Regions from separate parts of the Homo sapiens genome. Here regions 2, 3, 4 and 5 are each reported to be linked to region 1. Evidence: microRNA targets listed by miRTarBase, many of them from high-throughput screens and not tested one by one. Region 1 holds a microRNA gene; each other region holds the end of a gene's coding sequence.
The links. The annotated mature microRNA hsa-miR-3150a-3p reads CUGGGGAGAUCCUCGAGGUUGG and lies in region 1 at 3,031-3,052, opposite strand. An mRNA with a match to its seed (bases 2 to 7 or 8) in the 3' UTR can be bound and repressed. Matches are read on the target gene's strand: a 7mer-m8 pairs with bases 2 to 8, a 7mer-A1 pairs with bases 2 to 7 and ends in A, and an 8mer does both.

Region 1 (4,814 bases):
GGTGAGTCACCACTCTTTAGAGATTTCAAAGCCCCGGAGTCCACCCCACCAGCCTTCTGGGAGATTCCAGCAAAGTGGCTCTCCTTTCCTGATTTTGATTTTGTGTAGTTGCCCAGTCTGGCTCACACTAACATCGACCTGTGTTTGTCAAAGATTCTCCTCTGGTAATTCAAAATAGCGCAAGGAGAAGTGTGTGCGTGTTCGAGTGAAGCAAGATTGGCCTAGAGCTAGTTAAGCAAGAAGGTTTCCAAGCTCAAGTACCTGGAGAAGTGCGCATGCCTAGAACCAGAGTCCTTCAAATCTCTCTCCCAGTTGGCTTCATTTTCCCAGGCTGGCTGGCTGTGCAAGACACACGCCCTGAGTGTCTGCATCCTTAATTTCCTGCAGAGAGGAAAGAGGACACTTATTCACCAAGCCAACTAGAAAATTCTAGGGAAACATTCCCATGCCCCGAGAGATGCTTATGGTTGGCCTGGGGAGGATAAAATCCCAGCTCCAAAAAGGGAGTGCTAATCTAGGCTGACAAAATAATAAATGTCTGTTTGGGGGCATCAGAGAAATATTGTTTTCATTCCAAGCATTTTGAGACTGTGTATTTGGCCCTGGTGACCTGACAGACTGAATTTTCCTGTATGGTCCTAATTTTATTTAATGTATTTTTTTCTTAATAAAGATGATTTTAAGTGTATAACTAAAAATGACATTATTGTATGCTTTTGTAAATTTCATCTGAATGAATGAATTCACATATCTGAAAGTCATTTGTCACGTCTTGTGTCCATGGTTTAGAAACCTGGTGTATTGCTCCATTTTAGAGCACGCTAGAAAAATCAGCAGGAATCTCTGGACTGTTCTGTCATTTGAGCTCTTTCATTTGTCTGTTGACCCACATGAATGGGATCCTTGTGACCCTGGGTTCTGCTTGTCAGCTGTCCAAGTCTGGGCCGTTGTTGACCTACCAACAATCAGTGAGGGATGTGTTTGCTTACCAATTGAGAAATAATGTTTTTCACGTTAGACTCTATTTGAGGGGTGGGGTTGCTGGCTGCCTGATAATCATTCCTGCTTTCTTTGAATGAAATTTTTGAGGTTGTAAAAGAAGGAATTTGGAGTTTGCAAAGCCTAATCATAACATGAGGCCCTTGATCTAAGGGCTCTCCAATGGGCAGTGGCAGGTGGGATCGCTGGAAGGAGGAATCTAAGGACAGGAAACCAGTGAGGAAGTAAATGTAACAGAGAAAATCCACATCTGGGATTAGACAACAGCAGTGAGAGTGGAGAGGAAGAGATGAGTCTGAGAAACAGTGAACAAGGAATCCACAGAACTTGGTGACTAAGTGGAGGGACAGAGAAAAGAGGAGGGGGAAGTCAAAATGGCTAGATGGCTTCTAGTCTGTGACAGAGGCAGAGGAAATGCTCTGCTATTCATAGAAATGGGGAAGTTAGGAGGTAGTGCATAAGGCTGTACAGTTTTAGACATAGGACATTGGAGGAGATGGAAAGTCATCTTCAGGTGGTTAGAAACCCAGGGCCACTTTTGGTTGGTGTTCAGGAAGGGAAGTGCAGAGAGGTGGAAATCTCAGCCACAGGTCAAACACTTCCCTGGCCCCAGATTAAAGACCAATCCAATTAAGCATGAGAGCACACGAGCCACACAAGTCGCACAAGTCAGTAACGAAAAGGACTCCCAGGTGATCTTAAGTCACATAATTAACATATTTTCAGGGCCCTACTTGTATGTGGCCCTGAAAACGTTGAGACTAATCAGCTGGAATATATCCATTTTTTTTTCTCCTTCTTTTTAAAACCTTATTATAGAGAATTTTAAAAATATACAAGAGTAGAAATAATTCTAGAACGAACTCCCATGTTTTCATTACCCAGCCTCAACAACGATCAAATCATAGCCAACCTTGTTCCATCCCAACCCTTACCCACTTCTCCCTGCGTTATTTTGAAGCTAATTCCAGACATAAATATTTCAGTCTGAATTTCTAAAAATAAGGACTCTATCCTTTAAAAATAAGCACAATGCCATTATCATGCCTTAAAAAATTAACTATGGTTTCTTATATCAAATATCAAGTCAGGTTCAAATTTCCACTAAAGTTTTAAGTTTCCATTAAAAGCAGTTGATTTGAATCAGGATTCAAATTAGGACATCAGGTTGGGATTGGTTGGCAGGTTTTAAAGTCTCTTTTACTCTTTGGGTTTCTCCCCTACCCTCTGGAGAGAGCTCCCCACACCGTGGCTTTGCTGACTGCATTCCTTGGGTGGACTTTCACTTGTGCCTCTGTCCTCGACATGTCCTGTAAGCTGGAAGCCGGGATCAGATTCAGATCCATTTTTATTTTAAGTGTTATGCAAAAAGACACCCAGTGAAGGTGTTAGAATGAGCCATGGCAGTGGATGGGGTTCGCAGGACCCCTGCGGAAGGGGGACGTTTAAGGGGCAAGCGGAAAAGGAGACACCTGGAATGGGGGAGGAGGAGCAGCGGGGCGAGGCGGGGGCGGTGCCGCGTGGTCTGCGAGCCCGGATATTCCCTGGGGAGCGCACCTGCGACTTCACCTCCAGTCCCTCCCCGGCTGGGGCAGCGGGGCGCGGGCGCTCGGGAGAGGTGGCGCTGCCTACTCGGCCTCATCTTGCTGAGAATGCGACGGGGCGACAGCTTCCTGTCTTTTCCAGTGGCTTTTGGCATCCCCAGAGGAAAAAACGGGGAGACCCGCTTTGGCCTCAGGAAGCGCAGAAACACTGTCCTGGCTGCGCGCGCAAGGGCGAGAACCTAGGGGACCCGCCTAAAGCGCCGTTGGGGCTGAGCACCGAACTCGCACAGCTCCGGGCAGCGACCCGCGATGCGGCATCCTTCCGTCCGGTCGGAGCCCTCCTAGCCCTCAGCGCGTCTATTCCTAGCTTCGGTCCCCGCAGCCATATAAGCAATGACACCCTCGCCGACTCGCCTGCCAGCTTGGCCGCCTCCCTGCAGAGGGCTGACGCTTCTCCAGAAGTTGTAAGAAAAGGAGGGAAAGCAGGCCAACCTCGAGGATCTCCCCAGCCTTGGCGTTCAGGTGCTGAGGAGATCGTCGAGGTTGGCCTGCTTCCCCTCACTCCTCGGGCCTTGCTCTTCCCCCAGGTGCCCACTGCCCTCCCTGCTGTGTACCACTTTCTTGCTGCCTGTGAAGGTATTTGTCCTCACTCTTGTGCTGCTCCTTCAATGATAGAACTTTGGGACTTTCTCATCCAGCAGCACCAGCCTGAAAAAGCAGTGGCTTGCACCACCACACACATACCTGGTCTCAGGTGGGTGGATCAGGGCAACTTGGCCACTAGTGCCCCAGTAATGCCCATCTGCCCAACCTCAATGCAGGAGCAACAAGTATTTCTCTGTCTTGGAGAGATCTAGAAAAAGGCTGAACATACCACGAGGGTGTTGCTTCAGAAGAAAATGCTGGTCAGGGTTCCAAGCCATCATAGGAACTTGTGAGCTGAGAAACATGGTCAACTCTACTCTCTCTCTCTTCTCTACCTACCCAGGCAGCCACAAATCTCAGTGTCAGTCACTGCTTTGGTTTGACATCTAAGGGCTCTGTTACAAGGGTAACTAAGATGAGTACCAGTAGATGCCCAATGACACTTGTAAACATGAAAGTGTATACCAGTATAAAGGATGCTGCAGCCTCAGCCTTGAAAAGTAAGGCTTTTAGGGAATGAAACAAAGGATAGTCAGGTTCTTAGGGGACAGGGAGGGTTCTGGCATGGGGAGCAGCCCTGGGCAGGTCTGGGGGTGCTGCGAAGTAGGGCACCGCAACATAACGGCCCTGTGTCTTAGGTGGCCAGGAAGGGGAAGGCAGGAGATACAGAAGGAAAGGAAACTAACATTTTATTGAGACAGGCATTGTGCTGGTCCTGAGGTTTATGCGAAGATTAATTTCTGGGGGTGAGAAGGTAAAAAATGATGAGGTGGAAACCAGCATCTTCTGTTACTCCCATCTGTGCAGAGTTAAAGAAGACTTGAAAGAAGGGGATGTGAGTGGCAGGAAAATCCCCAGTGACCGGCCCTGAACCTTCTGCCAGCGCAGCTCACCTCCTCCCCAAATGCCTCCCAATAGGATCTCAGCCCTAAACAAGCACAGGGCGTGGGGTGGTACAGATGATGATGTAGCTGCTTCTGAGATGCCCCTGGGCGCTGCTGGAGCTGAGCCCTGGGACTGGAATGACTTTTGCCCGCTGCCCTCAAAATTCCCACAGGCCACACCGCTACCACCTCTTGGGTAAAGTAGGAGGGACACATCTCCACCACCATCCAAATTGTTACCTAATGAGGAATTTTGCCAGGAACTACTTACAGCCCAATGGAGCCAGGCTGGGTATTTCCAGGACATGAGCCATTTTCTCTGTGCCCACTAAACAGGGTGCAGGTCCCTGAAGCCCTCAGGGAAGCTGCAAAGGTTACTGGGGTCGGCTCTGGGGCAACAGCTGACCTCTTAGCTCCCACTGCAGGCGTAGGAACCTCCAGGACAGCCTGTGGGGGTGGTGAGTCTGCAAAGCTGGCTGGCTAATGAGGGTGCAGTGCTGGTAGTGTCTGCCTTATGCTTTTTTTTTTTTTTTTTTTTCTTTTGGAGACGGAGTCTCGCTCTATCGCCCAGGCTGGAGTGCAGTGGTGAGATCTCGGCTCACTGCAAACTCCACCTCCCAGGTTCACGCCATTCTCCTGCCTCAGCCTCCCGAGTAGCTGGGACTACAGGCGCCCGCCACAATGCCCGGCTAATTTTTTTTTTTTTTGTATTTTTAGTAGAGACGGGTTTTCACCGTGTTAG
Region 2 (4,814 bases), not on the chromosome of region 1:
TTGGACAATGAGGCACCATTGTCACTTATTGACTCCTCAGCTCTAAATGCTGAAATTAAATCTTGTCATGACAAGTCTGGAATTCCTGATGAGGTTTTACAAAGTATTTTGGATCAATACTCCAACAAATCAGAAAGCCAGAAAGAGGATCCTTTCAATATTGCAGAACCACGAGTGGATTTACACACCTCAGGAGAACACTCAGAATTGGTTCAAGAAGAAAATTTGAGCCCAGGCACCCAAACACCTTCAAATGATAAAGCAAGTATGTTGCAAGAATACTCCAAATACCTCCAACAGGCTTTTGAAAAATCCACTAATGCAAGTTTTACTCTTGGACACGGTTTCCAATTTGTCAGTTTGTCTTCACCTCTCCACAACCACACTTTGTTTCCAGAAAAACAAATATACACTACGTCTCCTTTGGAGTGTGGTTTCGGCCAATCTGTTACCTCAGTGTTGCCATCTTCATTGCCAAAGCCTCCTTTTGGGATGTTGTTTGGATCTCAGCCAGGTCTTTATTTGTCTGCTTTGGATGCTACACATCAGCAGTTGACACCTTCCCAGGAGCTGGATGATCTGATAGATTCTCAGAAGAACTTAGAGACTTCATCAGCCTTCCAGTCCTCATCTCAGAAATTGACTAGCCAGAAGGAACAGAAAAACTTAGAGTCTTCAACAGGCTTTCAGATTCCATCTCAGGAGTTAGCTAGCCAGATAGATCCTCAGAAAGACATAGAGCCTAGAACAACGTATCAGATTGAGAACTTTGCACAAGCGTTTGGTTCTCAGTTTAAGTCGGGCAGCAGGGTGCCAATGACCTTTATCACTAACTCTAATGGAGAAGTGGACCATAGAGTAAGGACTTCAGTGTCAGATTTCTCAGGGTATACAAATATGATGTCTGATGTAAGTGAGCCATGTAGTACAAGAGTAAAGACACCCACCAGCCAGAGTTACAGGTAAGGTCCCAAAAGTGGCCAGGCTGGAGGTCTTCTAATGTAATTTTGTTTTATTTTGAGAACACTGCCATTGGAATGTTTCTACACGATCCTATTAAGAATAATGTGATGCCCTTTCAATGCAACTTTTCATATTTAGTTTATTTTGTTAGCGTGATTTTAGCTCTGTTTGTATTATGATTTTTAATCAAAATCAATAGATTAAAAATAGTTTGACATTCAAAGTGACAATGTTTAGCAATCAAATTTACATGTATAGATCGTCAGGGAATAGCCCAAATGTTTTAAACGCAAAAAAAAAGACAAAAAAAAACCAAAAAAAAAAAACCTACAAAAAAAACTTTGTTGCTAGGATTAAGGTTATTCTAATTGCTTTACTCTCAGGAAAGTGTAATAACGCATGGGAATTCTGTACGTTATCACTGTAATGGAATATCCAATTTACAGATAGTATGATATACATTTCATCATTTAAGTAAGGGATCGAAAACATTTCAAATTGCTCTATCTGGGCTGATAGACATTTCGTCATTTAAGTAAGGGATCGAAGACATTTCAAATTGCTATCTCCATCTGGGCTGATCCAAAATTCTGAGATTGTTGGCTACCTATATTTTGTTGCAGCTTTTAAATGTACTCTGAACTTCCAAACCACATTCATTCCAGCCTGGTAGAACAAATATTCTTGGATCTTTGATCAAAGCCTGGAATGATAGCTTTAATAAAAGAAGGAAAAAAAAAAAGCACCCTCTCTTGATCTCAACTGTAACAAGGCTGTAATTCCATCAAGCGATTCTACTGACATCTAGTACAGTGTTGAAGCCCAAGTGGTTGGCTGGTTCCAGTATTAGAACTCAAGTTGAAATTATATGATTAACTGAAATTTGGGGCATGCATTATTTATTATACATGGCCTACAACGGTTCTGTCTGCGCTGTTACGTATTACCTACACTTCTGGGTTTTTTTGTTCTTGTTCTCAGCCTCTCTTTAAGAGTTCTTGGGCCTTCCTTTTCCCTCTTTCTATTTTAACAGTTTTAATTTTAGAACCATTTACATTCCAGTAGGTAATTCACTATGCGCTTTATATGCCTTAGGGCATCCAAATAAAAAACAATAGGGTAAACATCCCCAAAACCCACCTTTAAAAAAAAAAAAACCCATACAGATTTCCATATGTAATAAAACCCCGTGTTCTTGGATAGATATTAATAAGGTTGTAATTCCAACTGGTGACATAACTCCTGTGAGGGATAAGAATGTGTCTGCTTATAGTAATAACATCAGAACCTCTTTGTGAAATTGCGGCCTTTAATGTACATTTTAATGAAAGGGTGCATTAGTATTGTACAGGGGTCTTGTAAAGTCATCAAAACTTGCTATGAACTCTAATTGCCATTTGAAGCTACTGATTGGCAGTGGCTCTACTCTAAAACTGCTTTTTAGCAATTGTATTTTTTTCCTGATTATATTTTTTAATGTACTTTGATGTTTATGCTGATGAGTTTTTTATGTACTTTTGGTGATGTTTCAGTCTTATGTACTCTTCTGACGTCAGAAAAGTACCACTGGTTGTTTGCAGTCTTATTGTGTAATCAGCCTACCGCAGGCTTCCATGTATAATAAAGTAATTAATATTGTGCAAGTGTAAAACACTTCTGTTATAAAAGCAGTGTTTGGAAAATAAGAAATATTAAAAATGGTTACAAAGTATTAGTTAATTTCCTTTTCCCACTTTCCTCCCTTTAGCTTTAGCAGCTAAAGGGTCACCAACTTGTCATTGCAAGATTCTTAGAAAATGTACTTAATCTTAAATACGCTGAGTACTAAAAAGTGTTTATTTCTTATTTCAGTAAGTGCGGTAAGTTCTATTGAGTACAGAGTACAAGCTGTAATCAAAGGATGGAGAGGACCTTTACCACTGTATCTCTTAAGCTGTATGATTTTTCTCCAGTTTGTTTTATACAGGTTTTGAATTTCTTTAACTTTTATTGTGTGTACTGAATACTGCATATGTATTATTCTGATTGTTTGCTCTAGTTTACTACCAATAAAAGTCCTGTTAATCACAAGATTGAAGAAAGGAGATATTACTTAATATCCAGTAACGTTTTTCAGAATTTTCTATTAACATTTTCTAAAATATTCACATCCGTGGTATAACCTGCAGTTTAGAGGCTTGTATTTTAATTGTATTTTTTTAACTTAGGTATTTTGTGTTTCTAGGTTTATTTTAGTTGAAAATGGACTCAAGGCCGGGAGTGGTGGCTCACGCCTGTAATCCTAGCACTTCGGGAGGCCAAGGCGGGTGGATTGCCTGAGCTCAGGAGCTCGAGACCAGTCTGGGTAACACAGTGAAACCCCGTCTCTACTAAAATACAAAAAATCAGCTGGGTGGGGCGGCGTGTGCCTGTAGTCCCAGCTACTCAGGAGGCTGAGGCAGGATAATTGCTTGAACCCAGAAGGTGGGGAGGTTGCAGTGAGCCAAGATTGTGCCACTGCACTCCAGCCTGGGCGACAGAGCAAGACTCCGTTTCAAAAAAAAAAAAAAGGATTCAAATTTATATAATACTAAATTTTTGTTCTTCCATATTGCTATGCACCTAAAACATATTCAATGTTCATAAAATATTCAGTTTTATGACATTATGAAAACATTCAACATTTTATGAACATTGAATACTTTATGAACGTTGAATATGTTTTAGGTGCATAATATGGAAGAATAGAAATTTAATATTATATAAATCAATGTTTTCTTGAAATTGGGTTAGCCATCCTAATATTACTCCAGAGAAATTATTTATTGAGGCTTTATTTTAAATCAGATTCCAATATCTTCTGGTTTTAGGTGCATCCTTTTTTGCCTCAAAAATGTTGTAATATCCTGTGGCACCAGTTTTGGGAAAAAAAACTTTTTACTTAAAAAGTTGTAATAAAGTGACAGTATGATTTAGATTACAACAGTCTTGAGCATTTTAGTTAGGATGAAGGTATTATTAAATCAGCAATGTTTTAAAATGTTGAGAGTATAAGTATTAGAAGGAAAGAGCTAAACCTATAAATAATGGAGATGCAGAAACTGAAAATTAGTAAATATGTAATATATTAGTAAACTTATAAGTATGAAGGGAAAAAGTAGATCATAAGACATTTGTGTTTTGAAATTTAGTGGCTACAGTGTTGAGGAATTGGGAATAAATATATTAAAGGGTAGAATAGGTCTTTGAGGCTTTGTTTTCTTTTTAGTATATGATAGTATTACAGGAAATCATAAAGATATTAAGTATAAGCATGGATTTCTCTGTAGAGATTATCTGTACTGGCGAGTCTGTGATTAGGAAATGTCAGTTTTTGTTTGTTTTGCCCAAGTGTATTTCCTAGATTTGGTCTTTTTCTTGAACAAGAGTGCTAAGCAGAATCTCTGATTCTATATTGAAATCCAATTTTTGATTTCTTTGCACAGGTGACTTATTCTCTATTCTAGATTAGCCCTAACAGATTGATTTTTTTTTTTAACCCATCCACCTGCCTTTATTTCTTCTGTGGAATGTCTGTCTCTGAATATGATCATTTTAAAATTAAGGTTTTTTTTTACTTTTAAGAAGTTAAGGTATGAAGTAGGAAACAATGCTTTTGGATTTCTGTTGTGCTACTGGAAATTCAGAATAAGGACTACCATAATTTAGCAATTGCTGGTCAGTATTTTTGAGGTAATTTAAAAATGGGAACAGTGGAAAAACATCTATAATTTTTAGCATGTTTTTAAAAAGTTGCAAACTGATACAAATATTTCTACTTTAGTTTTCCGTATTATGCTCATCAGATGAGAGAGGCAAAAGTTTGTATTCAT
Region 3 (4,814 bases), not on the chromosome of region 1:
GTGGGCAGTGGGGACGGAGCACAGACCACCGCCCACAAGGGTCTCTCCTGTGACTTCTGGCTTCCCGAGGGCAGAGGCTGGGATGGGCATGTGGCGGCTGGCACCCAGGAGGCTCCGCCAGGTCCACGCCAAGCCAGCCTGGCTCAGCTCTGGCTTCCTGCTCACACGCTGGATGCCTGTCCCCAGGCCTCCTGACAGGGCTCTGCAGCATTGGAGAGGCTTGTGGTGGGGCCCTCGCTGTAGAACAGGCACTGCCAGTGCTCACTGACTCCTCATTGCAGCCAGGGCAGGGGCGCTCCCACCACCTCGGTTTCAGTCAGGAAGCTGGGGGGTGCTGGGATCTGCCAGCAGCTCTGTGTGCTCCCCAGGTGGGCTGCCCGGGGCCCTGGCTCTCTGGCTTCTACACCAGTGCCCCTGCGAAGCCTCAGCGCCCAAGGTCTTTGCAAGCCCTGTTCCTGCATCTCTGGAGAGGGCTGCTCCAGGTGTGGGCCTGGCCAGGGCTTCCAGACCAGTCCAGGCACTGCACCTGCACATTGACCCCCTTCTCCACTCTCTCTCATCCTTCAGTAGCCACAAAGCTGGCAGCAGGGTACTCGCAGATTTGTGAGGAGAGCCGAGCCCTTGCTGACTGTCCTCCCGTGCACGGCAGAGTGAGGCGGGGCTCCTGGCCTCCTTAGGGGCTGCCCGCTCTGGGCCACACAGCCAGAGAAACACTGTCCATCTGGCTGGCTTGGCCTGTGGGGTGCAAAAGAGGTGTTTTCACTTTGCTTTGGAAACATGGAAATTACCAAGTGACTTAACCATAACACCAAATGATGATTTTTAAATTTATGAAAATTATGGAACCAGATGGGACACAGGGAAACGAGAACGATACTGAAAAGGTCTGAGTCCTGTGGGGGGTCCAGGTCCCGCAAGACAGCTAATCAGGTGCCCCTGTCTGTTATTCGGGTAAATGTAGCAGCTGGGTCCAGGCTCGGGCAGAGCAGCTTTCTACAGCAGGGGTGTCCGCCCTCTCCCGGGGTTCCCACGGGGTTCCCAGGGGCCCCTTACTCTGCCACGATGTGGGAGTTCCACCACCACAGGGACTTGAGCGGCAGCTCCGGCTCTTACGTAGAAACGCGCAACTCCAGTCCCTAGGTTGTGTCCGAGGTTGCTATGGTGCCATCCCATCTTGCCGCTCACTCTGCGACTGTGCGGAGAAACGCAAGTGCCCCCGAAGGGTGGGCGTGGCCTCTGATGAATGCACACGTTGGTGGGAGGTGGCTTCCGTTTGTACGAAGCGCCTCTTCACGCGAGCGTTCACCTCGGTCTCCCCTTTGCTTGGTCCAGTTCCAGAAACGCCGCTGGACTGCGAGGTCTCCCTGTGGTCGTCCTGGGGACTGTGCGGAGGCCACTGTGGGAGGCTCGGGACCAAGAGCAGGACTCGCTACGTCCGGGTCCAGCCCGCCAACAACGGGAGCCCCTGCCCCGAGCTCGAAGAAGAGGCTGAGTGCGTCCCTGATAACTGCGTCTAAGACCAGAGCCCCGCAGCCCCTGGGGCCCCCCGGAGCCATGGGGTGTCGGGGGCTCCTGTGCAGGCTCATGCTGCAGGCGGCCGAGGGCACAGGGGGTTTCGCGCTGCTCCTGACCGCGGTGAGGCCGCGCCGACCATCTCTGCACTGAAGGGCCCTCTGGTGGCCGGCACGGGCATTGGGAAACAGCCTCCTCCTTTCCCAACCTTGCTTCTTAGGGGCCCCCGTGTCCCGTCTGCTCTCAGCCTCCTCCTCCTGCAGGATAAAGTCATCCCCAAGGCTCCAGCTACTCTAAATTATGTCTCCTTATAAGTTATTGCTGCTCCAGGAGATTGTCCTTCATCGTCCAGGGGCCTGGCTCCCACGTGGTTGCAGATACCTCAGACCTGGTGCTCTAGGCTGTGCTGAGCCCACTCTCCCGAGGGCGCATCCAAGCGGGGGCCACTTGAGAAGTGAATAAATGGGGCGGTTTCGGAAGCGTCAGTGTTTCCATGTTATGGATCTCTCTGCGTTTGAATAAAGACTATCTCTGTTGCTCACAAATGTCCCTGGCTGTCCCCACACTTGTTCTGGGCCCCGTGCAGTGCAGGGACCCGTGGTGTGCGCTAATTGGGGACACACATTCAGAAGGCGCCTGGTGCTGCCGTCAGGGCCATGAGGCACGTGCTCTGTGTGTGTGTGGGAGGCAGGCCTGAGACCTACAGATCTCCCCACAACAGACGCCACCCCTGGCCCATACAGGATTTCAGAAGACACAGCAAATGGCATGTCAGATGCATCCACAAACCCGGCAGGCACGCGCCTGCCCACAGGACGATCAGAAGCTCAGACAAGGGGCACCTTGAGATCCGGACGAGGCCCCAGAAGCCCTCACTCTGCCCCCTCCTCTGTGGGAGCAGCTTGCATTGCTGCTGTTCATGGGGGGGCCACTGACCACCAAGACCCTCGCAGCCCATCAGGCCACCAGCAGACACCTCCTGAGACCTGAGCTCAGAGGCCCCAACCTCAAAGATGTCCTCAGGGGCTCACTGTAATCTGTCGTGGCCCTTTCTGCAGCAGGGGTCCCCAGGCCTCCCCACCAGTGCCACTCACCTGGTGGAACCCCAGGGCCCTCTCAGTGCCTGGGCGGGAGCTCTGTGTGGTTTGAGGATGGAGATGCTTGGGGGATGGCTGCTTCTTCAGTCCTCTCCCAGTGACTGGAAGGTGGGGGCTCACTTCTCTCACCGAGGCCTGGTAGACGACCCTTCCTCGTAACTGTCTAAGGCCCTCCAGCCCTGATGCTTCTAGAACCAGACCCCAGGCCCAGCTCCCACCACCCTGCACGCCATCCCCGCCCACCATCCTTGAAAACAATGAACTAAGCCCAAGCTCACGGGCGCATGAGCTCTGAGGTGACGTGGAGATCTGAAAAACCCCTGGCTTAAAGTTTTCTTAAGGTTCCTGGGACTGACAATGCCAGGAGGCCCCTGAAAGAATGGCCGTAAATCCTGTGTAGAGATCACACTGTGTACTTGGAACTCAAGAGGATCCCCAGGAACATGAACCCACAATCAGAACCCATAAAACGCACAGAACACCAGCCTTGATGCTCCTGAGTCAGAGCACATGGCAAACTCCACGGTCAGAGCCACCGGGCCGCTGGGGCTGGCATGACCAGGAGAAGATGCTGACCGAGTTAACCTCGCCAGGAGCTCTAAACTCAAAGACACCAGAGCAGCACAATGGGGTGGTGCATTGAAGCCTCGACAGACGGACACAACACTCCAGTCAAAGGGCAGAGACTGCAAGAGCAGACTCACAGAACCATGCGCTACTGTGGAGCCTGTGAAGTCCTGTAGGATCACTGAAAGGCTGGGGAAGGGGTTGTGGTGCAGACTCCTGCAGACACCTGGATCCACCTGCCCTCCCTCCTGGAGCATGGAGCTGGGGGTCCCTGGGGTAGGACAGGCGTCACTTTGGGGCCAGAACATTTACTGCCCAGGTGAGAGGCTATTGTGCTTTCCTGGCCTCAGGGACCCCAGGGCATGTGTTGACGTGGGTGCCATCACTGAAGTCTCTGGGGCCCCAGGGCATGTGTTGATGTGGGTGCCATCACAGAAGTCTCCAGGGCCCCAGGGCATGTGTTGACGTGGGTGCCATCACAGAAGTCTCTGGGGCCCCAGGGCATGTGTTGACGTGGGTGCCATCACAGAAGTCTCTGGGGCCCCCACGCCACTAGGACGGCCACTGTTGTGCTGAGGCATTGAGATTTGAAGGAGACCAATGGGGAACGCCATCCGGTAATGGAATGCTGTGTGAGGAATCCCACAGGGGCCGCCTGGCCGGAGGGTGGATCAGACAGGACCTATGTGGCTGCCCTCTCCTGAATGAGGTGGGGAGCACGGGAAGGCGCAGAGTGCAGAAACAGCACTGCATCAGTGGCCGCCATCTTGACAGCAGTGAGTAGTGGGTATAGACAGGAAAATGGAGAGGAGAAGCCCCTGCAATAGTCCCAAAAGAGAGAGGTTTGGGCCTCAGAGACACCCGTGGACATGGGAAGAAATGGATGAGTCTGGGTTTGTTTTGATGAAAACGCAACGTGAATACTTACAGACCTGCGTTTAACATGCCTCCCAGAGATACCCAAGCAGTTGACCCCATCCCAGTTTCAGGAAGGCCTTGTCCCAACTGGGTCAGCATGGGGAGCCAGGGGGGCAGTGAGCAAGTGAGGGCAAGTTCACACCTGAGGGACCCATTCGTGGTCTGTAGCCCCCTGCACACTGTGCTGCCACAGGTGGACGGGGGGCACCTGGGCCAGAAGGAGGGGCTCCACAACTACACTGAGACTGCATGCCCCTCATATTAGTGGGATGTGGATACGCTGGGCTCCAGGGTGCTGCTGGGCCTACAGGGTGAGGGTTGGTCCAGCCCACTGTGCTGAGAAGTGGTCGGCAGTCCACAGTGTCCGAGCCATAGGAGGATAATCATGGAATGGCCCACTGTGCTCAGCAACAACACACAGGCCATGGGGACTGGGGCTGAGGGGTCTGTGGCACTGGGGGAGGAAGACAAAGGGTAGAACATGGAGAAGCGATGGGCAGGGAGTTCCTGGCAAAGATGGTAGGCTGAGGAACTGAGCACTGACACCTAACTCCACTCCCACCATACTCCATTGGAGCTGTAGAAGAGGGTGTGTGGATGGCACAATCCAGACGCCTACCTTGGCACTCTCAGGGGACACCCTCCACCCACAGAATGGCGAAACGGGATGGATACAGCTCTGAGACACTGCCCCTTTCATAAGATGCAGGGAGGACTCCA
Region 4 (4,598 bases), not on the chromosome of region 1:
GAGGCGCTTGGCGGCCGTCTTGGCCGGCGGAAAGGCTCAGGACCCAAGAAGGAGCGGAGACGCACTGAGAGCATTAACAGCGCATTCGCGGAGTTGCGCGAGTGCATCCCCAACGTGCCGGCCGACACCAAGCTCTCCAAGATCAAGACTCTGCGCCTAGCCACCAGCTACATCGCCTACCTGATGGACGTGCTGGCCAAGGATGCACAGTCTGGCGATCCCGAGGCCTTCAAGGCTGAACTCAAGAAGGCGGATGGCGGCCGTGAGAGCAAGCGGAAAAGGGAGCTGGTGAGTCCTGGGGCTTGCATGCTCCAGCCAAGGGTGCAGGAGCGGTGAGCAGCCTCAGGCCATGCAGGTAGTCGAAGGAGGCTGTGTTGTCCTGTGTCCGATTTGGAAAGGTTGGGAAGAGTTCTGAGATGGTTGGTCACAGCGTGCGATCCTGTGCATGGAGGGAGGCAGATTCGTCATAGAATTCATTTGTAATACGGGAGAGTGTTTGTAATACTGAGTGAATAATCTGTTTGGAGCCTCGGACCCTCCAAAAATGCACACACCACAGGTTTTGCTTCCAATTTGGAGAAGTCCTGATTCATTCCTGGGCTCTCCTGGAAGCCAGGTTAAGAATATGTGTTAAAGTTCTTTACTTTGAGTTTGAATTTATGTGCCCGGGCTCGGTTCCTGTTTTCAAAGGGCCTTTGCTGGACCGGCTAGTCTACTTCCATCATTGTATAAATAGGGAAACTGAGGGCCCAGAGTGGGTCGGGGCAGGAAAAGCACCTATCTGAGGAGTCCAGGGTGGAGGTGAGGTAAAACAGATCGGGTCTTCTACTCAGTCCAGGGCCAGTTCTGGTTCTCCCCATGGACTGGTTCTGAGGACGACTTCAGTGGCTTTGCATGTAAATAAGAGCCACTTCTTTTAGCTTTGGAGAGCGCAGTCTCGTCTTGGCCTTCTTGATCCTCTCCGGTTAGGGTGACACTTCCTGGCACTCGGTCTGGCTGTCCGGGGCTGGGGGCTTCTGAGCGCTGGGTTTTCAGGCTGGCCAATCAGTTTCTCTAGGTTGGGGGGCTTAAGGCCGTAGCGGAGTGGAGCCAGCTGAAGCGCCCCACCTGGTTTATCCAACCTGCGGGGGCCTGTGGTAAACTGACGAAAGCTCATCCAGGGACGAGGGAAAGATAAATAGGCATCGAGTCTCTAAACGGCTGCCCCGGACTGGGGATGGTGCAGGCCGGCTTCTTTCGAGGTGCGGCGCCTCGAAAGAAGTTGTTATTGGGCGGATCCCGGCCCCCACGCGTCGCCGCCTCCTTCAAGTAGCACCGCTTGGTTCCTGCTGAAAGAGCGGGAAGGAGGACGCTAGGCCAGCTCGACTCCCCGCTCTTTTACCTCCGTATCTGAGGCTCCCAGCTCCGGCTTAGGGGGCCCCAAGCCTGCATCCAAGCCCTGATGTTTAAACCAGGTTGGGAGGCTGGCGGAAGTGTGTGGGGTGCAGCGAGAGCGGGAGAACCGTGGATTTCCACCCCTCCCTTCCAATATCCTGGGATCTCCCTTAGGTGTCCTAAAGCCAAATCAACGCGCGTCAGTTTCACCAGACGCAGAACATTTTCCTTACCAAACCTCCCGAAGCTGCCCAGCCCATCCCGGGTCCCAGGAACTCCGCGCATAAAGGCAAATTTACGAGCCTGTTTGCCTATTTCGCAAACAGAAATCCGTCACTTATTTAAAGACTCCCAGTTACTGCTCCCGACACCTTCCCCTCCTCCTCATCTTACCCCATGCCGGGCGATCGGAGCAGAAAAATTAAAACCTGTCTCTCCCGCCTCTTTTCTTCTGTGTGTCCTTTGGCAGCAGCAGCACGAAGGTTTTCCTCCTGCCCTGGGCCCAGTCGAGAAGAGGATTAAAGGACGCACCGGCTGGCCGCAGCAAGTCTGGGCGCTGGAGTTAAACCAGTGAGCCGAGGCCCGCGCCGAGGACCTGGCCAGGCCAGCCACTCCTGAAGCCCCGGGAGGAGAGGAAGGCAGCGGCGAACGCCAGGCTCTGGGCTCCGGCGACTGGTGCTACGCATCCCGCGGAGCTTCTGCTGAGCGCCGGCAGGTCGTCGGCTGCAACCACACACTTGGATCGCACGTGCAATGTCCTTTGATTTTTTTTAATACATTAAGAGAAAGAGAAATATATATATATCCACCCCCAGCCCAACCGAGGGCGGCCCTTGGCGGCAACATGCAAGAAGGAGGGACTGTCGAACCCAAGGGCTCAAAGACGCACTCTTCCACCCTTTTGGAGCGAATTTAGAACCTCAGCCCTATCTCCATTTCCCTATCTGGCTCTTTCTCTCTTGTCCCTCCATATGATCCGCCCCGACGCCGTCTTCTCTAATTAAAATGCAATAAGGAATCAATTCTTTTCTGCCTGAGAAAGAGAACCAGACGCAGGAAGATGAAAGGCTGCCCTTTGTTCTTCGAATCGTGGTGGTTTTATTTTATTTTTCTTTTTGTCGCTGCACTTCCTGTTTAGTTCCAAGGGAAACACTTTCTCTCTTTCTCTGTCTCTCTCTTTTCTTCCTTCTTTTCCTTCCTTTTTGTTTCTATCTAAATAAAAGCTTTCCCTGTGTTGGAAAGTTTTTATGTATTTAAACTACCTACCATGCCTGTTGTGCTCAGGTGTTTGTTCATCCTGCCATCCCCAACCCTTTTCTACCTCAAGTCTGTGTGACCACTCACAGCCCCCCTCCCTTCGCCAAAGCAGTGTCTATGCTCTTGATTAATAAAACATTTTCTGAAATCATCTGAAGCCTGTGTCATGTCTCAACCGGGGTCCCTCACCGACTCCCATGGCTTCTGCTAGGTGGAAAGCCTCTGTTCCTGCTCCTCTTCTTTTGATAAACACGAAACCAAACTTGAAATCAAGGGAAGCCGGCAGATAAAGAATGTATTTCAAGAACAAGAGCAAAGTTCTCTTTAGACTAGAACGGGAGGTGGGGGTAACTTATGGGAACGGGGAAGAACAAAAACGGAAACGAATTAGTCTCAGAGGGCCTGGGCTCGGGTTTTTGTGCGTTGAGTATTCGTGCTTGTCTGGAGGTTAGTATGCCCACTGGTGTCTGCAAAGAGTGGTTTGGAGTGTTTATTGGGAGGGAAGGGGGCCTAGCACACAGGTGAATCCTATCCCTGGGGCAGGGTAGCTCAGGAGAGGGGGTGTTGGTGGGGAATATGTTCATGTATGTGAAATTCTCAACATATAGATGTACATGTGACAGTGCAGCAACTCATACGGAGCCTGAGGCTGTGCAGGGGCCAACAAGGGTCTGCTTAGTACAGCTCCAAGCACACAGTAAGGACTTGACAAGTCACAGCAGCTATTATTATTTTATACCTGAGTAAAATAAGCTTGTGAGTGCTTATATGTTAAATTGAGGTATTTAGGTTTCTCTTTAGCAACGAAGCACTCGACAGAAGGTTGTGAGAGCATATGGATTTGTGCAAAGGGATGGGGTGTATGTGTGTATGCGTGCTCATTCGGGCACTTGTGCAGGAGAGCCAGTCTTTGTGTTCTCTCATGCGCACCCATGACTAGGTGTGGTGGGTATAAATTCGGTGCATTTGCCAAGGATCTTGGATGCGTATTGGGCTAAACTGGGGCGGGCAAACGCAGTGGTTTATACTTCCAGGAATAATAATGTACGAATACTTTGGTTGCGTGCAACTGTGTGCTAGGCACTGCGCTAAGCACTTCTGTGTCTCCCAACAGCTCCCATGGTTGCCCCACGGAGCGCACGCTCTGCAGCGCCTGAGGGTCTGCGGCGCTCACTGCGAAGGAGGAGGGGAGACCCGTGAGGCTGTCTTGGAACTTTCGCTCTGCGCACCTGGAGCCTGAGCGCTCGGCTTGGGAACAAGAAAGGAGACCTCAGGCAGCTCCGGGGCAGGGCCTCGTGGGGCACCAGGCGTGCCCCAGGCGCCTTGTCCCAGCGTCGGGGTGAATATGGGACCCCATTAGTCTTGGCTGTAAACACCGTAGCAGGGGCCGAGAGGCCACGCGGGCCTTTCCGGACGCGAAGGAGTTAATAAAAGGTGTTTTATGGGCGCTAGGAAACAGTGGGGGAGGTGTGAGCTTCTCTCTCTACTCTCGCCCCCCTACTTTTTTCTTTTTTCCCTCTCGCCACCCGCCGCCAGATCAAACAGGCCCGCGATTTAACTAGGGCAACACTTGGCGGTAATGAGCCTGTCCGACGCACCCCTTCCTCGGCCTCAGTACCCGGCCCGAGGCCCCAGGGCCCTTGGGGAGGAGCAGAGAGAAAAATCAAAGTTTCTTTCTTGTTGTTTTGTTTTTCTTTTCTTTACCTTCTTTCTTTCCGTTTCTTTCTGGGAGTCCGTTTAGAAATTCCGGCGCGCATGGAGAAACAGACTCAGGGAGGGAGGTGATCTAAGCCCCACAGCACGGAGGGAAGCTTATCTAGATTCGAACCCAGGACTCCAACTTCGCTCACACACAAACCTCTGGCTATACACAGGTCCCAGCTCCCAGGACTATTTTTAGCACCGTGAAGTATCCTAGGCACGGGAAGAATGCGCACCCTGGTCTAGCTTTCTTATAGCCGGGGAAA
Region 5 (4,814 bases), not on the chromosome of region 1:
GAGTTACCCACTAGCAAATAGATCAGGAGCAGCTGGGGTTAACTCTTTCAGGGCTGGGGCTTCCTATGGGGCTGACTCTGAGGACCTTCGGCAGGCGTGTGTGTACACACACACGTCCAAGGGGGAGTGGGGGTGGCAGAAGGCAAGTTCGGCAGATTTCATTTATGGAGAAGTGGAGATGAAGAGCAACAGAGGCAGAGAGGAGCAGAGTCAAGACAGGTCCCCGTCTCTCTTAGTGACCTGCTCCCAGGTCACCCAAAGCAGCCCAGCAAAGGGGAGACTGGCAGGCCTGGCAAGCAGGGGTGGGCCAAGCCTGGGCCGAGAGCCCCCATGAACTCCAGGTCCTGAACGCCAGCCCCCTCCAGGGTCCTGTTTTGTCAGGGTCAGTGGGGCTCAGGAAAGACTCTAACCTCTAGCCTAACTCAGAGAAGGTCTGCCACTGGCTGAGGGGCACGCAGCAAGCCAGGGAGGCCCAGGTAGGGTAGATGGAGATCTTGGGAGTGGGCAGGGGTGCTAAGCTGGGAATGGGGACATCTGGGGTCACCCTATTGTATCCCTGCCTCCATGACTGACCTGAGACATATCCCCTCAGGCCTTGGTTTTCCTACTTGGGAAGAAGGAGGGTCAGGTCCCTTCCAGCCAGGGCTGTGGTCAAGGTGCTGAGTCACTAGGGGCAGTGGGGAGGGGGTGGGAGACAGCTTTGCCTCCCTCTGGAGTTGGGGCATGAGGGGGCCAGGACAGAGCCGAGCACAGCGGTGAACGGTGGAGAAAGGGCTCAGGGCCGTGGCTGGTGCCCATGGTGGCCGCAGGGCCACCCATGGCCCCATGGGAGGGTGACTCTGAGCAGCCCTTACCAACTGTAGGACTCTGCTGCCCTGGAGTGGGGCCTGAAGAACTCTGGGGGCGGCACTAGAGTCAGGAGTGAGGGGCCCTTGCGTTTCCAGGCTCCCCTTCCCCAGTCAGCCCAGCCTGGAGCTGCCACAGAGTGGGGTGACCGCTGCTGTGATTGTCGCCAGCCCCCCGCCAACACCAGACACACAAATGGGGTGGGCTGAGGGGTGGGAGGCAGCAGGGGCAGTGACACTGGAGCAGGGACAAGAGGAGACATGGAGAGACAGAACAGGTCACACAAGGGCAGAAAGGTCAAGAGAAAACAGCAGGGCCAGAGAGAGGGGAAGAGACCCAGAAACAGCGGCGGGGCCCGAACAACCCCGGAGGGTGAGACTAACAGAGACTCGGGTAGGGAGACACCGCGAGCAGAGCCCGCGCCCACTCACGTCCTGGAAGAGCGTGTGTCCGGCGGGCCCCGGGTCGGGCGCGAGCTGGGGGTGCCGCGGGGTCTGGGGCTGGGGCTGGGGCGCGGGCGGCCGGAGCAGGCACACGGTGAGCAGCCCCGCGCACGCCATGGCGCCGCCACCCGCTCGGGCTCGGCTGCGGTTGCTGCCGACCCTGGACGCCGCGGCGGACTCGGTGTGGCTAGAGGCCGCCCCTTGGCGCCGGCGCCGACGCGCGGGCTCAGGCCCCGCCCCCGCCCCGCCCCCGCGGACGCCGGGTTCCCTCGCCTCAAGGTCCAACTCCAGCGCCGCGGGCCTCCGCGCTTCCGCGGCCACGGCGGAGGGGGAGGCGCCCGAGGGCTCCGGTCCCGCGACGGCCTGTCGGGAGCAGAACCTAGGGGCTGCGGGCCTACCCAGAGGGACAGGATGACCAAGCCAGTGCCGAGGTCAGGGTGACACAAGTGGGTAAAACCCACCAGGACTTCACCTTTTGGGGCGTCTGTATCCTCATCTACAAAAATGGTACTGGCAGACACCCTATGCAATTGTTGGGACTCATTCAATGTCAAGTGCTTACAACGGGGGCTGGCGCAGAGGAAGCCCACAGGTCCGTGCGGCCGAATCCCAGGCATCCCGACGCCCGCCCTCTCTGGCACTAAGCGCAGCCCTTTCCCCTCCCCTCCGTGACTCTGGCCCTCCCTTCAACCCGTTCTCCACACAGCAGCCGGGGGGAGCTTTTAAGATGCGAAAGAGGAGGTGTCACTTCGGTCTCCAGTGACTCCTTGGCCCCTGAATAAAGCTTAAGACTGAACGCCCCACTCCAGGAGCACCACTCTGACCCTCACCTCAGGACCGCAGCCACACTGCTTTCTCTCCGGTCCTCTATCCCGCTCCCTCCTGCCCAAGGCCTTTGCCCATCGTGTCCTCTGCTTGGTGTTTTCTTCCTCTGGTTAACTCCTACTTATTTTACAGCGCTCAGCTTAAGCACCACCCATTCCAGAACGCCTTTCCCGATTTTCTCATTTATGCAGATCTCCTCTTTCAGACCCTGAGAGCACCATGAAAGGAGGTAACACCCGTGTCCCCAGAACTGTTAAATACCTGACACAGAACCAGCCCACTGTATTTGTTACATGTTTACTAATGTCCAGAAACGTCTGGAAGGAAGACAGCAAACTGAGCAGAGTGGCCTCTGGGGCTGGGGAAAGGAGAGGCCACTCATTACTCTGCACTTCGGGCAGCACTGAATAGCATTCTTGGCTTTCTACAACAAAAACCTTTACTGGATCTGCTTTTGAGTTAGGACCAAAACAGCGAGGAAGCTGACCTTTCTTCGAGTTATGAGGCTCAAATCAAATCGGGCACGGACAGGGAGAAGGGAAGTGGAGAATGGGCATTTCCCCAGCAACCTTGGCCTCTCCCGCCCCGAAATGTTCCCAACAGAGTCCCAAAACCCGGCCCAAACGTCATCAAAATATTTATTAAAACCAAAGCAGGAGGGAACAGAGCTGTTAGGAAGCAAATCAAAGTGCAGATTGGAGGGTGGGGCAGAGCAGTGGGGAGGCAGGCGCTTCAGACACTGCAGGAGGGACCACAGGGTCTGGGCTGGGGGAGGCCTTCACCACCCCTCCTGCCCACATCAGTGAAGGTCCCCCACTCACCTCTCCCATCTCATATCCATCCTGGGGGGCAGCTGGGGCCCTGAACTGGCCCCCTGGAGAGGGCCCACCCCACCATCTGACCACCCATGGCTGTCAGTCAGTCTGTCTCCCTCCCTCACTTTCCCAATAAATAAATCACCCAGGCCTCAGTTCCTTCAGTATGGGGCAGAAGAACAGCTCAGGGACCCCTGCCCTTGCTCAAGGGTAGAGGGAGTTGGGGTATCAACCCCACACCCCTCCTCCCCTTTGCTGATTCCCCAGGCTCACCAAAGAGGCCTCGATAAATAAATAACGCTCCATTAAAGCTTCAATCAGAAAAAACCTTTAAGACAGAAGTGCTCTCACCGTCCTACACGCCCAGCCAGCCAAAGCCTCCCCACCTGGCCTGGTCAGAGCACCAGATTCTGGGAGCAGGCACTGCCCTGGGCCTTGTGGGACCCCCAGAGCAAAAGGGCCGAAAGTGCAGTTAGAGCCCCCCCACGCGCACACATGGACTCATGCACACACATGTGGACACACTGGGGCGTGTCTGCAGTGCACACACAGAGGTGTATGTTCACCTTCATTCCCCGGTACATGCACACACACATGCTCACACACATTCACCCCCGGTACACACGTGTGGGTGTAGGCTGCATGCACATACACACCACACAGACTCCTTCCCTTCCTGGCTTGCTCAGCCTCCTAGCGGTAGCCAGACCCCAGAGCTAGAAGCTTCTGGAGACAGAGGAGAGGGGTATAAATTAAATGTTTCCAAACAGGCTGGGAGGACGGCCAGGGACAGGGGGCTCCAGGGCTGCAGAGACAAGGTGAGCATCTCTGGAAACCCTGGTCCCTCCAAGCCCTGTCAGAAATCCAGGGGGGTGAGGTCCCCAAAGTCACAGTCGAAGAGGTCTCTGATGCCCTCGCCCTCCTCGAGGCCGAAGTGGTAGTCGAGGGCCTCGTGGGGTGGGGAAAGGCTGATGAACTCCTCAGGGAGGAGGCCGGAGAAGTCCTCCCGCACATGCTCCAGGAGCGAGTCGGCCGCCACCAGCGGGGACAGGCGGTCCTCGTCCACGGGAGCCCGCAGGCTGCCCATCCGGGACAACAGCGGTTCTGGGGAGACGGGGAGCATCACAGGCCGGGGATGCCCCAGCAGGGAGGAAGGCAGGGGCTGTCGTGCCTGCCCACCCCCCAGAAGAGGGGCCCTGCCCCACCCCACCCACCTACCCATCACCCACCTTGCTCCAGGCTGAGTAGAGACTGGCTGGGATCTGTGGTGAGGGATGAGGGGGGAGATGATGGTGGTGGTGACACTATGGTGGCAGAGTCAGTGGCCCTGTTCTCCTCCTCAGAAGTGACCTCCTGGGATGGGGTCTTCCCAGGGCTGATCCCACCTACGGTCTCCTCAGGGCACAGGAAAACATCGATCGGGCCTTGTTTGCTCTTAAGGGAGATCTGAAAGTTCTGGGTGGAAGCAGCAGGCAGGGTAAACTGAGGCCCAGGTGACCACCAGCCCAGCCCAGCCCAGCCCAGTTGGGCCCGGAGTTCCCAGATCTCACCTCCGAAGAGTCCACGGCTTGGAGCTGGGTCTCAGGAGGGGCTTTGATCACCATAACCATCTGCTCTGCAGGGTCTGCAATGCTACGAAGGTCCTGACACGTCACGTAGGCCAGGGTTGGCAGAGTCAAGGACCACATGACCTTTGACTTCTAGGGGGTCACTCACTCCAACAGCTCACAAGGCAGGGCTCACACCTGCCTAGTCACTCCTGTCCTCCCAACCTCCTACCCACTCAAAACCTACCTCACGCCTGAGTTTCAAGTTCCACATCTGTATAATGAAATCACTCTACCCATTGAATCCCAAGGTAATAATGGCTACCGGGAACGATTCC

Region 2: miRTarBase lists ZNF281 as a target of hsa-miR-3150a-3p. Seed matches in the 3' UTR shown: 7mer-A1 at 2,090-2,096.
Region 3: miRTarBase lists SPON2 as a target of hsa-miR-3150a-3p. Seed matches in the 3' UTR shown: 7mer-A1 at 1,786-1,792.
Region 4: miRTarBase lists HAND1 as a target of hsa-miR-3150a-3p. Seed matches in the 3' UTR shown: 7mer-A1 at 2,678-2,684.
Region 5: the mRNA of E2F1 is a reported target of hsa-miR-3150a-3p. Seed matches in the 3' UTR shown: 7mer-m8 at 2,831-2,837.

What each region holds. Positions count from the first base shown.
Region 1 is chr8:95,071,200-95,076,013 of GRCh38, reverse strand. It overlaps MIR3150A (microRNA 3150a), which reads right to left and starts at 3,100; the gene lies at 3,021-3,100. MIR3150BHG (MIR3150B host gene) reads left to right here and starts at 2,832. Exons shown (of 2, transcript NR_132986.1): 1 at 2,832-3,085. MIR3150B (microRNA 3150b) reads left to right here and starts at 3,018; the gene lies at 3,018-3,103. LOC124901980 (a long non-coding RNA gene) reads left to right here and starts at 3,761. Exons shown (of 2, transcript XR_007061013.1): 1 at 3,761-4,268. It also overlaps a transcript of NDUFAF6 not described here. RefSeq lists a silencer at 2,526-2,625.
Region 2 is chr1:200,403,170-200,407,983 of GRCh38, reverse strand. ZNF281 (zinc finger protein 281) reads left to right here. Exons shown (of 2, transcript NM_001281293.2): 2 at 1-3,033. The coding sequence ends at 966. Among named protein-coding and RNA genes, the nearest start is that of ZNF281, 4.5 kb to the left of the region's middle.
Region 3 is chr4:1,164,175-1,168,988 of GRCh38, reverse strand. SPON2 (spondin 2) reads left to right here. Exons shown (of 6, transcript NM_012445.4): 6 at 1,333-2,057. The coding sequence ends at 1,517. All of the region lies in intron 1 of LOC124900647 (nascent polypeptide-associated complex subunit alpha, muscle-specific form-like), which reads right to left. Among named protein-coding and RNA genes, the nearest start is that of SPON2, 6.0 kb to the left of the region's middle. RefSeq lists a silencer at 1,569-1,852 and an enhancer at 1,679-1,928.
Region 4 is chr5:154,473,156-154,477,753 of GRCh38, reverse strand. HAND1 (heart and neural crest derivatives expressed 1) reads left to right here. Exons shown (of 2, transcript NM_004821.3): 1 at 1-288; 2 at 1,844-2,782. The coding sequence ends at 1,948. Among named protein-coding and RNA genes, the nearest start is that of HAND1, 2.8 kb to the left of the region's middle. RefSeq lists enhancers at 853-1,707, 3,378-4,349, 4,350-4,598 and a silencer at 1,862-2,049.
Region 5 is chr20:33,672,947-33,677,760 of GRCh38, forward strand. It overlaps E2F1 (E2F transcription factor 1), which reads right to left. Exons shown (of 7, transcript NM_005225.3): 5 at 4,480-4,594; 6 at 4,159-4,384; 7 at 2,531-4,033. The coding sequence ends at 3,786. It overlaps NECAB3 (N-terminal EF-hand calcium binding protein 3), which reads right to left and starts at 1,482. Exons shown (of 12, transcript NM_031232.4): 1 at 1,278-1,482. The coding sequence starts at 1,406. RefSeq lists enhancers at 243-790, 791-1,338, 2,009-2,509 and a silencer at 1,193-1,822.